Linked DNA regions of Homo sapiens: region 1 is linked to region 2. Evidence: fine-mapped expression QTL. A gene starts in region 2. The other region holds a variant in brackets. All regions are shown on one strand. Distances are between the middles of the regions. Region 1 has its middle 66 kb from the start of FAM182A. Region 2 holds the start of PYGB (glycogen phosphorylase B).

What was found. PIP is the estimated chance that this variant, and not a neighbour inherited with it, causes the effect. A credible set is the group of variants that fine-mapping cannot tell apart.
Region 1: its variant is the best candidate, but not a certain one, in a credible set for the expression of PYGB in whole blood (INTERVAL, PIP 0.54).

The regions. Positions count from the first base shown.
Region 1 is chr20:26,118,647-26,123,038 of GRCh38, forward strand. No RefSeq gene overlaps it. Among named protein-coding and RNA genes, the nearest start is that of FAM182A, 66 kb to the left of the region's middle. The variant C/T (reference allele first, on the strand shown) is at 2,364.
Region 2 is chr20:25,246,289-25,250,680 of GRCh38, forward strand. PYGB (glycogen phosphorylase B) reads left to right here and starts at 1,797. Exons shown (of 20, transcript NM_002862.4): 1 at 1,797-2,133. The coding sequence starts at 1,891. RefSeq lists silencers at 829-1,082, 1,101-1,180, 1,361-1,550, 1,561-1,750, 2,061-2,440 and an enhancer at 1,831-1,910.

The DNA.
Region 1 (4,392 bases), 870 kb after region 2:
TTGCAGCTTTCTCAGCAAATAGTGAACTAGGAGGAGCTGAGATGTTCAGTGAGACCACACATTAAAACCACCTGAGGAGCTGTCTCCTCATCTATACATCTGCAACTGCTTCAGGTGGAAGGGGAAAAGCCAACATGTGGCATTGTGGGGAGGGTTGATCTTTTTGGAAATAAACATTATATGCAGGACTTAAGAGTTTTTAAAAGTACCACAGAATACAAAGTGAAAAATCTCCTCACCCTTCTCCTCCAGCTGCTACCCATTTACCCTCCCAGAAGGCAACCAAAGTTACTAGTTTCTAGAGTGTCCTTTAGAAATATCCTACACATACATACACTCACACTTTTTCCCCTATGTAAATAGTGGCATACTAGAAACACACTGTTCTGTATCTTGCTTTTATTACTTAATATATCTTGGTAGGCTGGGCGTGGTGGATCACGCCTGTAATCCCAGCACTTTGGGAGACTGAGGCAGGTGGATCACAAGATCAGGAAATCAAGATCATCCTGGCTAACATGGTGAAACCCCATCTCTACTAAAAATACAAAAAAGTTAGCTGGGCACGGTGGTGGGCGCCTGTAGTCCCAGCTACTCAGGAGGCTGAGGTGGGAAGAACCCAGGAGGCAGAGCTTGCAGTGAGCCGAGATCACATCACCAACCTCCAGCCTGGGCGACAGAGCGAGACTGCATCCCCCAAAAAAAATACATATATCTTGGCAATTATTCTCATGCATCTATGGTTCTTTCTATTGCTAAAGAGTATTTCACCCTATGAGCCAGGCGCAGTGGCTCACGCCTGTAATCCCAACACTTTGGGAGGCTGAGGCAGGTGGATCACCTGAGGTTGAGAGTTCGAGACCAGCGTGACCAACATGCTGAAACCCCGTCTCTACTGAAAATACAAAAATTAGCCAGGCATGGTGGCACATGCCTCTAATCCCAGCTACTCAAGAGGCTGAGGAAGGAGAATCACTTGAACCCAGGAGGCAGAGGTTGCAGTCAGCTGAGATCATGCCGTTGCACTCCAGCCTGGGCAACAAGAATGAAACTCTGTCCAAAAACAAAAGAGTATTTCACTATATGAACGTTCATGCATTTTATAAAAGTTGTCCAACTAATTCTGATCTGCTGTCCTAAAACATGCTTTAAGTGATCTATCTCTGCACTCTCCTCCCAACTCAGACATCCCAAATAAATAAAGCTATAAATGGAATGCAGAGTCAAAAAAAAAAAGATTTTAACCCAGGGTCATCTCATTTTTTTCTAACAGTGGCCTAAATGATTAGAAACCCATGAGGTACAATTTTTTAATGCACATTGTTTAACTTTCAGCTATGGTGAGTCCTGAGTTCAACAATTACACTCAATGTCTCTCAAAGTCACAAGTTAAGTGACTTCTCCATTTTTTCCCTCATCTCAGTAATCCTTCCTGTTGTCCTAGTTTTGTGGTATGACTTTAATGGAGTTTAACATTATTATCTCAAAAAAAAAACCAAAAAAGTCAGTTTTATTTAAAAGTACTGTTCGCCCAATACAGAAGGAAAAAAAAAGTAAAAACACTAGCAAAATCAGGAAATTAGCCCCTACTGGCATACAAATTTACAGGTCAAAGCAAGCCCTTCCTGTCCTCTCATGAACTGCAGCCTGGAGACCACTACAACCTCCTTCCTCAAAACTTATCCACGAGATACATGGCAAGAGTGCTCAGATGTTGTTTTTTAACCAGAATGTTTTCCTCAAAAGTCTTAAATGAAAGCTAAATGTACAAAAGGTACAATGGGGAAACATTCTGATCTAGTGAGAATGGGAGACCTAGGATTCATCTTTTCAGTCTCCCCCTGCCCTTCCCCATCCCTCCCTCCACCCTTCACTCCAGTCCTGGCTCACTAAGATACCTCGGCAGAATACTTTACATTTGAAACCCACTGAAATGAAAGAATCTAAAGTTCAGACTGAAGGGGAAGGGAGCACCTTAAGTGGCAGTATCAAATTATGATTTCAGTTCTTAGCACCAAAACTCATTAACTCAGGGTAGTTACATGGTTGACTCATGAACTAAAAAAATTCTATGAATTATTTAAGAAATCTGATCAAGATTTTATGAGCAACTTCCTCATCTCTTACATATCAACACATAATGTTTTAGGATGAGAATAATATAGTAATAATTATATGTCACTGTCATAAAAGACAATAGCACTTCTAACTGAATTATACAGATAAACCCAGAACTAGCCTCTTATATATTGCAAACAGGTAATACAATATTGCAAAATGAAATTGATCTATTTAAGTTCCTTTTTAAATCTTCTCATATTAAATAAACACACACATATTTACTCAACAGGAAAATCTTGCAA[C/T]AACAAAATTTCAAATACTATCCTGCCAAAAAACAAGCAATTTTTCCTCTCAGCAGGAACTCCTGGCTTTTGGCCCATAACCTTTGCATAACGAAAATATGTTATGCAAAGGTGTTCAAGGTGGCCTAAACTACCTTGGAAAAAAAGCTGAAAATGGCCGGGCACAGTGGCTCATGCCTGTTATCCCAGCACTTTGGGAGGCCAAGGCCAGTGGATCACAAGGTCAGGAAATCAAGACCATCCTGGCCAACATGGTGAAACTCCATCTCTACTAAAATACAAAAAAGAAAAAATTAGCCAGACATGGTGGCACACACCTGTAGTCCCAGCTACTCAGGAGGCTGAGGCAGGGGAATCGCTTGAATCCAGGAAGCGGAGGTTGTAGTGAGCTGGCATCGTGCCACTGCACTCCAGATTGACAACAGAGTGAGACCCCATCTCAAAAAAAAAAAAAAAAAAGAAAAAAAAAGAAAAAAATGTACTTCACAGTGGCAGGACTGCAGATGCCACTTCAGATGAGCAAGAATAGATCCACCAAGCGTCACAATAGAGGTGAAGCCTACATTTCACCAAAGCAGAAAAAGGATCTTACAAAATATGCAATTTTTAACTGATAAAATAATAAAACCTCCTGATACAAAAGTATGGGATAGGGCAATGTCTCTATGACATTCAAATGCTAAAATATTAGTTATTAAACTGAAGCAAATTAGGTCACACCAGTTCCCACAAAGCTGTCCAGCTCTAGACCAATTCTAAAATTACGTTAGGCAAGACAAGGCTAAGAAAGACCACCACCCTGGGCATCCCGACACCTAAAATCCTCCAACCTAGGGATAATTTAAAGAAAGCCGACCTCCTAAACTTATTACTGAGTCCAGCATCCAGGAGAGGAAAGACTAGAAATTATCTAAGTGAATTCGGTAATTTGTACAAGACCAGAGTGGTGCTGTACTGGAATGAATTTTCTCCTGTAAAATAAACTAAAGCATTCTTCCCTTTGGGGGGAAAAAAGCTACTGCTTCTCAGCCTTTTGGTTAAGATCTAATCTGGGGGAATGCCACTGACAAGGTATTTTATTTGCAGCCTCTTTTGACATTATGACATCTTACTTAAAGACAGAGAAACAAATGGAAGCTAAAGAAAAAGCTTTTTAGTTAAACTATCCTACCTCTTATAAAGTATGATATTGAAAGAAAAATTTTAATAAGAATATAATTATTTGATAAATCTATGGGTACACATATTCAATAAGTAATTCTGGCCAGGCACAGTGGCTTATGCCTGTAATCCCAGCACTCTGGGAGGCCTAGGCAAGTGGATCACTAGAAGCCAGGAGTTTGAGACCAGCCTGGCCAAAAAGGCGAAACCCCGTCTACACTAAAAATACAAAAACTAACCGGGCATGGTGGCACATGTCTGTAATCCCAGCCACTCAGGAGGCTGAGCATGAGAATCACTTGAACTCAGGAGGTAGAAGTTGCAGTGAGACAAGATCGTGCCACTGTACTCCAGCCTGAGCAACAGAACAAGACTCTATCTCAAAAAATAATAATAAATACATAATTCTTAAATGAAAGAAAAATGATGCCCTCTACATAAAGCGCTGTCCCAAGACAGCAGTACAATGTAACAATATCCAACTGTGAACTGTGGTATGTCGGCACTACATTGAACTAATTTTCTGAACCGAACAACACTCACTCACTCAACTTCTAAGAACAAATATATTTCAAAACCAGCCAAGTGCAGTGGCTCACATCTCTAATCCCAGCACTTTGGGAAGCAGAAGAAGGTGGATCACTTGAAGTCAGGAGTTCAAGACCAGTCTCGCCAACCTGGTGGAACCTTGTCTTTACTAAAAATACGAAAATTATGGCTGGGCATGGTGGCTCACACCTGTCATCCCAGCACTTTGGGAGGCTGAGGCGGGAGGATCACGAGGTCAAGAGTTCAAGACCAGCCTGACCAACATGTGAAACCCCATCTCTACTAAAAATATAAAAATTAGCCAGGTGTAGTGGCGTGC
Region 2 (4,392 bases):
ATTCCTTTTAGCAGCACAATGGTTTATGATATTAACTTTGAGCACAGATACATTTTTCTGGGCTTGTGCAGTGGAGCAGGGCTTGGCTGGGGTGAACCTTGGCTGTTTCCCTTATTAGCTGTGTGGGCTTAGGGAAGAGTTAACTTCTCTGTGGCTCACCTTCTCCATTGTCAAGCGGGGGTAATAGCAGGCTATTTGCAGGGATCAGGAGTTAATACGTGTACACTGCAAGTAATGATCAATAAGTGTCAGCGCCTCCATTCTTTGCCAGGTGTGCACCACAGCTGGGGGATTAAACTTTACCACACCACAGCAGATAACATATTTGCATAACTTGCTTTTTGTCTTCTTAAGCTTTCCTTGAACTCAATTCCCCAGAGTGGTAGAAGTGGTCATAGGGCACTATCATTTTTATGACTTCTGAATTGCCAGATCACCCTCAGAGAGATTGCATCAGTGTTCGGAGCTTGCAGCCAAGCTCGACCCCACAGCCCTGCCATCTGTGCCCGAAGTTCGATCTTGTTGGCTCCAGAATCCCTAGGACATAGTGCAGGAGTGAATCCCGAGCTGGAGCTGGGTGGGCTGTGGGGTCATTCCAGATTGATTAACCTCCGACCTCTGAAGTCTGCAGCTGGAAGGGGCTCCAGGTAAGAAGATAACTTTGAAGCATCACACCAGGAAACCTACTGCACCTGGACTTTCATGACATTTCCTGCGGGCAATTTTTACCTCCACGAAATTCAGTAACCTTTGCAGCCCCTTCAGCCCAAGACCACCAGGAGCAAACCTGTGGTCCACAAAATCGGGTGTACTGACCCACTGCAATGAGGGAGCGCCTCCCAAGAACGAAGGGAAAGGCAGAGTTTGAAGGGGTTGAGGGAAGGCAGAGTTTAGGTGACCTTTACATGAAGCAGGGTTCCCACAGGCTGAGGCCAGCAGGACTGTGTTCCGCGGGGCCAAGTGTGGGAAGCTGTGTGCAGACGCCCCCTATCTGGAGCTGCAGCCTGGATTGGGATGACAGAGGCTAAGTCTCGGTTAGTGGCTGAGCTCCCCGGCCAGACGGGCATGTTTCCTTCTCCCTGCTGTAATCTCAAAGCGGACAGCGTCTGCCAGGTGGTTTCGGGAACAGGGTTTCTCCGAGGGCTAGGGGGCTGCGGTCCCTCCGAGGCGGGGTCGTGGTGGCATTTGGCTGTGGCTGCCTCGCGCCCTCGGGAACGGGCGTCTCCAGCTCGCTGGCAGCTGGTTTTCTCCACGTCTGTCATCGGCCTGGAGTGGCAAGCAAATAGCTGGTATTTTCAGAGCCGCCCTGCCCCGGACAGAGAAGACCGGGCCCAGCAGGCGTTGGTGGATGCCTTTCAAGCTGTAATCAGTTTCCCCGAACGTGTACCAGGTCTCGGCCACAGCCCGAGCCCAGCGCGCTCCCGCGGGGCACCTGGTGACCCGGTGCAGGGCGGGAGGGCCGGTCCCAGGAACCCGAGGGCCGGAGGGCAGGGCCCCCTTCCCGCACCGTCCCCGGGCTGGCAGGAGCGGCCACGACGGCACGCTCCGAGGCCCCGGGTCCCTTGCCCCCTCCAGTCGCTCCCACTTTCTGCCGGGCTTGCCCAACGAGGGGGCAAACACCACGCTCAGGTGGCGTGGACAGGTCGCTGCCGCCTCGGACTACACCAGAGATCTCAGCTATGAGCCTGGACGCCCGCCCCGCCCTCCCGAGGCCCCGCCCCGCCCCCCGAGGCCCCGCCCCGGCGCGGCGCGCAGGCGCGGTCCATCCCGCCCGCAGAGCCGCAGTGCCGGGCGCCAGAGCAGCGGCGCCAGAGCAGCTGCACCATCCCGGCGTTCGCGTGTGCCGCCGCTTTCCTCCTCCATCTCTTTTCCTCCGCCTCCGCCGGCGCGATGGCGAAGCCGCTGACGGACAGCGAGAAGCGGAAGCAGATCAGCGTGCGCGGCCTGGCGGGGCTAGGCGACGTGGCCGAGGTGCGGAAGAGCTTCAACCGGCACTTGCACTTCACGCTGGTCAAGGACCGCAATGTGGCCACGCCCCGCGACTACTTCTTCGCGCTGGCGCACACGGTGCGCGACCACCTCGTGGGCCGCTGGATCCGCACGCAGCAGCACTACTACGAGCGCGACCCCAAGGTGAGGCGCTGCCCCGCCCTGTGCGCCCGTGCCCGCTGAGAGGGCGCCGGTCCCGGAGCCGCGCCAGCGGGGGTCTCTGCGGGGCGGCCCGTCGGGCGTTACCTGCGCCCCTAGCCGGCCGGCGGCCAGGCACAGCCGACTGGGGAGTCGCCTGGAAGCCGCAGTCGGCGGGGCCCGGGCGTCCCCTGCGCAGGGCCGCGGCCACGGGTCCGCCCCACTGGGAGCCCGCGCCTGGCGGGGTCCGCCGTCCCCCGCAGATGATGCTGAGCCCGGGAGCCTGGCGGACGTTCCCGGTCTCTTTCTGGCCGTGCGCTTCCGCGCTGGCTGCAGAGCCGGTGCTCCCCGCCCCTGCCTCCAGCCACTCTTTGTTTTCCTGCAGCAGCCTGTGGGAGAAAATGGGACTGGAACCAGGCCTGGGCAGCCTTGTGGGTTGGAATGGGGTGAGCTCGGTAATCTGCAGGGAATTGTGAGACTTTTTTTTGTGTACGCTGCTTAGAAGAAAATCACTGAAGATGCCTGCTTCACGCAGGGAGGGGTACGAAGCTCAGAGATGGAGATGGAGCCCTCGAAGAAGGCTCTGTCTTAGAGGTTCCCACACCTCCCTTGGAGAAATTTGCTTGGGTTGAAGTTGACAGAGATCATCTTACTAATTGTTACTTTTTATATCTTGCAAAAATTTGTTTGAGTAGTGAAACAAAGTCACTGATTGTCCCCGTTACTCTTAACCATGTTTACTATGGGCCTGTGTTCTTGCTGTGTTTTTGGTATTCCTAAATATACATACACATTTTTAAAAAGTATAATGCACATACAGTTTTTTAGATTTTCTGTTTCATTCGTAAACATTTGTAACTTTTTCACTGATAAACAGCTTTGCAGGTCAATGGATAGGATGGTAGTTTTCAGTTTGATAGGTACATGGTAGTCTTGCACAGCCCCCTGTTGCCAGTTTTTTGTTGTTGTCGTTTGCTTTTAAACTCTTGACCATGGAGAATTGTCTTTCTACTACACTAACGTAGAGGGAGAACTGGTGAGGAAAAGACACACTTCCAGACCTGAAGCCACTTGGCAAAGATTTTACTTGCAGTGTACATCTAGGCAGTGAGCACTTGCTTTATGGATGGTATTTTAGAATATTTTTGTAGGGCATTAAGATATGTTTAATACGGTAATTGCTAAGAGATTGACTGCTTTTCCAAACTTATTCTGGGACATTCTTTTTTCTAAAATGGAGATGGTAAAAGGGACAGATTTGTTAGAATACCAACTGGGGCTCTTCATATTTGGTATGCAAAACATAGAAGTGGCAACGAATGGCCAAAACAGGTTATAACAAGGGCTTGGGATGACTTTGCCAGGAAAAGCAGCCAAGAAGCAGTGGCTCCCCCAGAATTCCCTGCTGTTGGGAGAGTTCTGATGCACAGCACCATTTTTTTTTTTTTTTTAATTCTGAGTCTTGCCCTGTAGCGTGAAGCTAGAGTGCAGTGGCGCGATCTCGGCTCAGTGCAACCTCCGCCTCCCGGGTTCAAGCAATTCTCCTGCCTTAGCCTCCCAAGTAGCTGGGATTACAGGCGCCTACCACCACGCCCGGCTAATTTTTTGTATCTTTAGTAGAGACGGGGTTTCACCATGTTGGCCAGGCTGGTCTCAAACTCCTGACCTCGTGATCCGCCCGCCTCGGCCTCCCAAAGTGCAGGAGTTACAGGCGTGAGCCAACGCACCCGACCCGCAACATCATTTTTATTGTCTAAGTGGCGGATGGCAAGGACATAGCTCTGCCTTCACATTCAAGGGCATTTCCTTGGAGCTGGACCAGGACTCAGCTCTACACCTTAGGGTGCCCATTGGAGTATTTATGTATAATCACATCCTGGAGAGGCCAGCGATGGGCTCAGGGATTACGGAAATGACCTTCATGAACAAGATAGTCCCTGCAACAAAACAGGTTTTTTGATCCTCCGTGAGATCTCTTTTGATTGTCTACGTGTGGTGGCTCTGGGTGGAAACCTTTCTCTTAAACCGCACAGTCTGTAAGTCGTAAAGTTGTAAACTTTTAGATCTCACAGTGTGTAAATAAGCTGTGTGCCTATTCTGAATAGGAAGGACATGGAAAATTGGGATTTAACTGCTTCTTTCGCTAATTCATGATGAAAATAAGCTTGCAATCCTTTCTTTGGAAAAGTTACATGCTTGCTGGTGATGGACCAGCAACCAGTCCCACCAGAGCCAATGAGAGGAGGTGTGCTCCCAAGAAAATAA